Regions from separate parts of the Homo sapiens genome. Here region 2 is reported to be linked to region 1. The links are microRNA targets in miRTarBase. Many come from high-throughput screens and were not tested one by one. Region 1 holds a microRNA gene; the other region holds the end of a gene's coding sequence.
The links. Region 1 holds the annotated microRNA hsa-miR-6856-5p (AAGAGAGGAGCAGUGGUGCUGUGG, at 1,231-1,254, opposite strand). A microRNA usually pairs through its seed, bases 2 to 8, with sites in the 3' UTR of a target mRNA and lowers its output. Matches are read on the target gene's strand: a 7mer-m8 pairs with bases 2 to 8, a 7mer-A1 pairs with bases 2 to 7 and ends in A, and an 8mer does both.

Region 2: the mRNA of CREB3L2 is a reported target of hsa-miR-6856-5p. Seed matches in the 3' UTR shown: 7mer-m8 at 1,738-1,744, 7mer-m8 at 1,965-1,971 and 7mer-m8 at 2,247-2,253.

Annotation. Positions count from the first base shown.
Region 1 is chr9:130,623,556-130,627,555 of GRCh38, reverse strand. It overlaps MIR6856 (microRNA 6856), which reads right to left and starts at 1,259; the gene lies at 1,193-1,259. FUBP3 (far upstream element binding protein 3) reads right to left here. Exons shown (of 19, transcript NM_003934.2): 11 at 3,845-3,945; 12 at 1,051-1,192.
Region 2 is chr7:137,876,698-137,880,697 of GRCh38, reverse strand. CREB3L2 (cAMP responsive element binding protein 3 like 2) reads left to right here. Exons shown (of 12, transcript NM_194071.4): 12 at 147-4,000. The coding sequence ends at 222. Among named protein-coding and RNA genes, the nearest start is that of DGKI, 32 kb to the right of the region's middle. RefSeq lists enhancers at 600-1,333, 1,334-2,065 and a silencer at 1,081-1,375.

The sequences.
Region 1 (4,000 bases):
CATAAGCCCACAGTGTCTGTGAGCAGGGACGAGGGCAGCTCCTGGGAGGTGAGTGTCGGGGGGCTCCCACCTGCCCAGCTCTGGAGGTCTCTGCTGGTGAAGCATCCCCAAGTCCTGCCTATCCAATACGAGCGCCCCTCAAGCAGCTAAGGGGTATTTGGTGATCAAAGAAATTTGAGAAACTCTGGAGAGACGACTGTTTTCTCCACATGCTGTCAAATACCTAATGAAGGCAAATACGAAACCCAGTGACAACGGGAGTCCCCCGCTGGCAGCGAGGCCTGGCTCAGAGCCCCACGGAAGCCGAGCCCTGCTGCTACACTGGGAAGGCCCCACAGCCTCGGCCCTGGTCTCAGTAGCCTTTCTGGGTCCCAGGGCTAGCCAAGATGAACTGCTGCCAATGGCTGAGAAATGTGGCTGCTCTCTCCTGGTTCTCAGTGAAGGACAGGAAGGAGCTACAGTAGCCATGAATGAGGGTTTCTTCCTAATGTTCTCCAAAATGCCCAGAAAAAACTAACACATCAATGTTTATTTCCCTCCACAGAGAGTCCGTGACTCACGGTAAATATGCAGAAAGGATAAAAACCATTTTCACATGTTACGCGGATCAAGACCAAATACTCAAACCTGGTAAGGGAAACAAGTGACACACTGTCGAGAAGGAATTTTCACTGAGGATACTGTCTCAACCGTCCCTCTAAGTTCCTTGGAGGTGAGTTAATTACCAATCAGTCGATTGACAAATGCCCCCCATCTTGCGCAAGGTATCTTTTCACCAAGCTAAGCTGCCCTCAACAGGCAGGGAGTTTTACTGCTGTCTCTTCATACTCACCAGAAATAATACACTTTGCTCCTCACAACAGGCCCGTCAGCAGCCTCAGAGAACCATGCCAAGCAGGGTTTCGGCAGAAGGTGGCTACTGCCTCCAGACCGGGCAGCCCCAGCCTGCAGCAGCAAAGGGACCTCACCAAAGGTTCTGGAGGTCCCGTGACCTGCCTTCCCTCAAGCCAAACAGCTGAGGGGGGATGTGAAACCCCAGCTGCCTCTTACCTTTGCCTATGACGAGGCCACACTTATCGGCTGGCACCGTGTATGTTATCTCCTGGACGCCACCAGGGGCTCCCACGCTCCAGTCGCCACGGCCACGACCTCTTCCTCTGGCTGCTGCCAGGCCTCCAAAGCCGTCTCTTTCCTGGAAAGATCACAGGGCTGTAGCGACCTCTGCCACTGCCACAGCACCACTGCTCCTCTCTTTTCCAGGGAGGAGGTTAAGTGACAGGATGTAATCAATGCCACCCATCAGAACCTAGCACCTTTCCACACTTCCCATTCTGAAGGGCTCTTTCAAGCCAGAATTAACACCGATCACAGGTGTATCTGGGGAGGACCTGTGCAGACGAACACACGTGGTTACATAAACAGCTCAAATGTATCCAACAGAAATAGGCAGACACAAACTCCAAGGCTGAAGCCCAGCGGCCTTTCTCCCTGGAGCTTTCCTCACTGGGCCCCGATCTACAGGCATCAAGAACTGCTTTCTCCCTTGCAGCTGAGGCCCCTCTTTCCTGCGGCGGACACATACTGGGCCTATGGGAAGTCAGATATGCACAGCCTGCTGACCCTCCCCAACCAGGCACTGCTATGAGTCACAACACCTGGCACTCCAGTCAGCAAGAAGGATAAACGGATTTTACTCAGTTTTAGAAAACTTCTTGGCTGTTGTGCCCCCAAGCAGCAGCAGCAGTAACAGGTTCAAGAGTGACCATTCAGGGATACTTCAGAAGGGAGGAACAGAGGGAACCTGCCAAGGCCTCCTCCCCATGTGGGGCTGGAGAAGTCTCTGAGGCATTCTCCCACTGTTCACCCAGCAGAGAGAAAAACCTAAATCTAACAGCGGACAGAGGAAGAGCCCTTTCATTGAGACAGCAGCAAGTCTCATTCCAGCCGCTGTCCGCGGAGTCATTTTGGAGCTGCAGTATTTAAACTCTCTTAAATGTGGAGGGTGAACCTGGTCAAGCTAAGAGCTATTTCATGGAAGGGAGAAGCTGCACAGACTTTTCAACACATGAAGAAATGTTGGGCAAAACCTGCTCATGTTGATTAAGAGTAAAGTGAACGTTTACCCAGAATCTAAACCAGCAGAAAGCTGAGACAATTGGAGTGCTTTTCCCCCGCACTCTGCTCTTATGAGACAACTGCCAAGTAAACAAGGCAATTTTAGAATGGATGTTCACACACGCACAGGAGCGCACAGTCAACTTTCTGGGTATGCCACAGATCTCGAAGAAAAGGTTTTCTCCCAAACATCTCGCAGCCTCTGCAGTGCAAGGTTCATAAACTTTTTTTGAGACAGAGTTTTGCTCTTGTTGCCCAGGCGGGAATGCAATGGCAGGATCCTGGCTCACTGCAACCTCCGCTTCCTGGGTTTAAGCAATTCTCCTGCCTCAGCCTCCTGAGTAGCTGAAACTATAGGCATGCGCCACCACGCCCGGCTAATTTTGTATTTTTAGTAGGGACGGGTCTCACCATGTTGGTCTTGAACTCCTGACCTCAGGTGATCCACCTGCCTTGGCATCCCAAAGTGCTAGGATTACAGGCGTGAGCCACCACGTCCAGCTAATTTTGTATTTTCAGCAGAGACAGGGTTTCACCATGTTGGTCAGGCTGGTCTCGAACTCCTGACCTCAGGTGATCCGCTTGCCTCGGCCTCCCAAAATGCTGGGTACAAGAGTGAGCCACCGTGCCTGGCCAAGGTTCATAAACTCTTGCTACAAAAAAAGGATGTTAGAGATCATTTAGAGCAGGGGTGTTCAATCTTTTGGCTTCCCTGGGCCACACTGGAAGAACTGTCTTGGGCCACCCATAAAATACACTAACATTAATGATAGCTGATGAGCTTAAAAACACACACACACACACACACACACACACACACACACACACACAAAATCTTGTAACATTTTAAGAAAGTTTATGAATTTGTGTTGGGCTGCATTCAATGCTGTTCCTGGGCTGCGTGCAGCCCACAGGCTGAACGAGCTTGATTTAGTGGCCGTTTTATAAACTTGTCTAATCTTAAGAATTGCCTGGGTCTCTAGTGAAGACCCAAGACCCTCCCTTGGAAATGCTGATTCAGTAGATCTGGGGTGGGGGCCTACACATTTGTAATTTGAGTAAGAACCACCAGATGGCTCTTAGGGGATCACATAGAGAGCACTGCCTGGTGCAAAGCACCCTGAGTCTGCTGCTGGGAACACCAGACCCAGAGGTTCAAAGGCAGCTCCAAGGTCACATGACTGATGGCAGAGCTGGGACTATAATTTCCAATCTCTTGCTTTATTCTTCCGTTCTGGTCATTCTCAAATGTATCCTCAGTCCTACCATCAGTTATAGGGGTTCCTAGCACTGTCACACAGGCTGGCTCACAGTCCAAAGATGTGCATGAAATCAAGTGCATGAAGGCAGCTTTAGGACTTTGGAGGACCCTGAAGTGTCTTCTACCACTAAGACTGGATTTCACTAACACAGATTAACATTAAATACACTTGATTATTTGAAACTTGGCGACCAATCTCCATGGTATTTCCCCACATGGTTTAAATAGCCAGAAACTTACTGTGTAAAGGCAATCTAGATGGTGAGGTAAATAAAGGCAGAATAATTAATGAGCAGAAAAAAATACCAAGAAGGCAGGAAAGAGGCTGATGTAGAGAAACTGCTGGTTTCCCATAATGTGACTTGAGACGCCTCAGGGTGACAGCTCTATGGTGCTGCACCGAGAGCCCCGGGTAGCACTTTCCACTTCTGCAGCCCAAACACTCACACTCTGCAGAGCTGGACCCACCTGGGCTGTAAGAATCAGCTCGCTGATGATATGCGCTGCATGCTGACACCGATCCGGAGGGCCCATGACCTGGGCAGCTCTTTCTGGACTAATCCCATCATCTGAGGAGCCAGGTGAGAGACAGGATTAGAAAAAAGCCCAACGTTAGAAGGAAAC
Region 2 (4,000 bases), not on the chromosome of region 1:
CTACTAGGAGAGAAAAGGACAAGAAACATGCCCAGGCCGTCTCACCAAGTTGCAACCCCTGAATGATTGCATCACGCTACAAAGCATGAGAATTGTAGCTAACAGCTGGTGACTAATACTTCGTTTTCCTTTTAATGCCTTCACAGGGTCAGCGCCAAACTGGAGGGGAATGAAACACTAAAAGTTGTAGAACTCGACAGAAGAGTGAACACCACTTTCTAAAGAGGCTGCCTGCACCCCCTCCCTTTCCCTTAACTCTACTTTTACATCCCCAAACCACCTTTGTCATCAGCTTTTCCTCTTTGCCACTGGATCTTCATGGAGACATGGGCAAGCATTAGTGGCTTCAGATTGGAGACCAGCCTGGGACTTCCCTGCAGTGAGAGAGCATCTCCCCCTGGTCCATGCCCCTCCTGTGCAGAAGGGAGCCTGCATCCCTCCCTTCCTTTCTCTTACTGCCATAGGAAATTATTTTAGGGGTTGGAGGTGGGACAAGCAGGCTTGTTTCCACCAATAGTGCCAAAAAGATATTGCCTAATGTGCACCTGTGAGGTGTAACCCCCCGCTTTGGAGACGAGATGGCTCTTGTTCAGTCAAGACCCCAGACTCTGGCCACAAAAATGCCATAATGCCTGTTGGTATTTGGCAAAGCACTGACCCGTGTCCTCCGTTGCTCGCACTGGGGTCTCTGGTGTGAACACCCCCGACAGCAGCCCTCCGCCCACTCTGCCCCCTGGGAGCCCTCGCTGGATCGTCTCGTCTCCTGCAGCAGCACTGGCAGGCGAGGGCTCTCGTTCATATTCTCAGGCCGCAAGTGCAATGCCTGAGGGGATCAGGCTTTTCTACTCCAGGCAAACCTGCCCCATCTTGTCGCTTTTAGGACCTCCCACAACCTGGTTCCCCACACATCCATAGTTCTGCCTCCCCAGCTTCTCCTCCCCAGTTGTAAATAGTATTTATTAGCTTGCCGAGGCTTCCTGCTAGCAACCACACTGAAGAGATCGATGCCTCCTTTCAAGCTAGCCAAGTTTTCTGCGAGCCTTCAGAGCTAGGAGGGCACCCTAGGCTCTGGGATCCCGTGTCTTTCCAGACAATGTTTTGTTTCCTTTCCTTTGTTTTTTCTTTTAACTGGAATAATTACCATTGAAAAAGAAGTTCCTTTGAGCATGTATGTGTCTGCCTCTAGGATGAGCTCAGAGCGAGAGATGACACAATGCCTCACTCAGGCCCCGGGCTCCCTGGCCACAAGCTTTTTCTATCCTGTTTTCATGACAGAGAAGGGGAAGCCCTGTTCTGACAACAGACATTTCAGACAACCTTGCTGGCTTTCCACACCTGCCTGGCCCCCTCCTCCCTCCACACTTCCACTTTGTCCTCCTCGTCCCCTACCTCAACAAAGCAGGGTGGGGTAGGTGACATTTGTGTATCCACATTCTTACCTTTGGTAGTCAGGTTTGGCTACTTTGCAGCTCGCCCAAAGAGATACAACCTAATCCCCAACCTACTTTTAGTTTTTTTGTTTTTTTTTTATGGTTAAAAGTAACTTTTGTAGTTTAAAAAAATCTTTCCTCTTTCATATAAATAAGAAGTGGAAATTGCCTTTTTATTGTGTAATGTAGAAAACCCTCAAGTGTTTTTTCCGAGCTTGGGAAAGATTTTGTGTAGGAAATGTGCATAGAGTTTGTATTTTATTTTTATTAGCAGCTGAAATGCCTTTGGTTTTGGCTTCTCTCTCTCCCTCTCTCTCTCTGTCTCTCCTTCTCTCTCTCCCCCCACCACCCACCCCCACACACGTCATCTGCATTGTTATTGGAGCCTGTACTTAGAGGGATTAAGCCCACACCCTGGCTTCCATTCCATATCAGGTACAGGATTTGATGTTATTAACATTTGTCGTCATACCTCATAAGTCGGTCCCTGCCTTGTCTGTCTAGGCCCATTTGGGGCTCCCTGTGAGTGATTCCCCTCTCTCTGCTATGCTGGAGACGGTTCCAGCCTGGAAAGCGGCCAAGTTCATCTTCTCACTGTGAGTGGAAGCTGGATCGGGCCCCCGTAGTCCTGGCAGCCCTGTTGTCTGGAGGGTTCTTGTTGTCCCTCCCATTAGCCAGGGCGGAGACTGTCTGAGCTGTGCAGGAGGAGGGTTGCTAGTAGGTTCTGCTTCTGCTTCTCTCTGCTCCACTGTCTGCAGCCCAGATCCTGTTGGGCCTGGCTGGTGTCTGGTAACCATGGGCCTCCACTGACCCATCCCTCTCTTTTAAACTGTCAGGTCATTATCAGGCATAGGCAGCCTATAGGGCCCAAAGAAGGCAAAAAGATAAGATTTACTCAAGTAGCATTTGGGCAATGAGGAAGGAAAGGTTTCAAATTTAGGGGCAGAAGTGAGAGAATGAGCCAACCCATGTACCTGCTGCAACTGAACCAGACTGGGTTTTCAAGGCTCCCAGACGTAGAGTAGGAAACGTGCTCTTCTAAATGAGGAGGGAGAAGATAAAGGAAACTTCTAGCCCCTGTCCTTAGTGCTTTGAGGATTTTATTTTCTCCCTTACTACGCTTGCTTGACGTCACTCTCTCTCGACCTCCAAACAGCAGGACTCTTTCTCTGGGAAACCATCCTTCCAAAACGGAATCTATGTAGACAATGGGACGTTAGGCAGAGAGCTCAGATGGCCCTTTTAAGGGGGCTCCAAGAACCAACATCACTGCTCTTTTAGATAAACCTCTGCCCTCCACTCCTTGCTTGAGTGGGTTAAAGGAACTAACAGTTGTCCCTTTAGGAGGACAAAATGGGGTCAAGAGGACACAGAAGAGTTGTATAGCACCAGATTGGTTCCAAATAGTTAATGGATGTGTGCACATTTTCTGTTCAGGGATTAAGACCAGAATATCAGTGGATTTGTTTTCCCCACCAAGTGGCCTCTTAGACTAGTCATTAACTTATGATTAGCTCTAAAGATTTCAAATAGTGGCAGACAGTGTCTTCTGAATGTAAGTTTTGAGAAATACGAGTCTGTCAGAGCGGCCATAAGCCATAAAGAGTCAATCTCTTAATTATATTTTTCATCATGTAAACAAGTTTCCCATTTCCCTTTCTTAGATTGCACCAGTGAAGGAGATGTTTTGCAAAGATTCAGAGAACTAATTTTTCACTGGATAAGACCTGAGTAACCCAGACCCCCCACCGTGGTTCTTTTCACAGCCCTCGACTTTGCACTTAAAAAGGGATATTGTAAATGAAAGGCTGCAGTGCCAGTTTTAAGAAAGAATTTCTGTGAAGTGTGAGGACTCTGGAGTCTAGCTCACATAAAGAGAGTGTTATATAAAAATCCGACAGCTGAACTAGGTTGCTCTTTTTTGGCAGGGAGTGGGGATGAGATTTGACACCAATATGGGCAAAATTAGATAACCTTTTGGTTAATATAAATGATTTTGATTTGGAGGCCTAATTTGTAGATTGTGAAAGCAGCTTTTAGTTTAACTTATTCACAGACCCCTTATAATTACCATGTTTTTTTTTTTCTTCCTAAATCTCTTGGTTCAGCTTGTGAATCTTACGTGCCCGTAAAGTTGGGATGTTGAATTGGCTCTTCTTTGTTCTGGCAGTGAGTCAAGTGTCCAGCATTTTTTCATAAGTGTTTTTTAAAATTGTTCTCCAGCATTTTATGGCTCCTCCCTCCCATGTCCTCAGACCCAGCAAAAGCGTAGAGGCAGAATTAGAGGCCTCTCCAGGCCAGCTCCTCTGCCCACATGTCATACAAGGTGTGAATTTGAGCACAGTCCAGAAATGGAGACATCCCACCCCCAGTTGAATAATGGCCCATTCATGCCAACCTTGCCAACACGGAGAGGGCAGAGATGCACTAGAAGACCTTCATCCTCCCCTTCCTCTGCCCCAAGTCACTACAGTTGGTTCTATTGAAGCCAGTCTTTAAGAAACCTGGGTTAAAGACACCAGCACTTCTGCTTGCTGGGCTGGCTGGACCTGTGAAGCCATGGGCAGGTA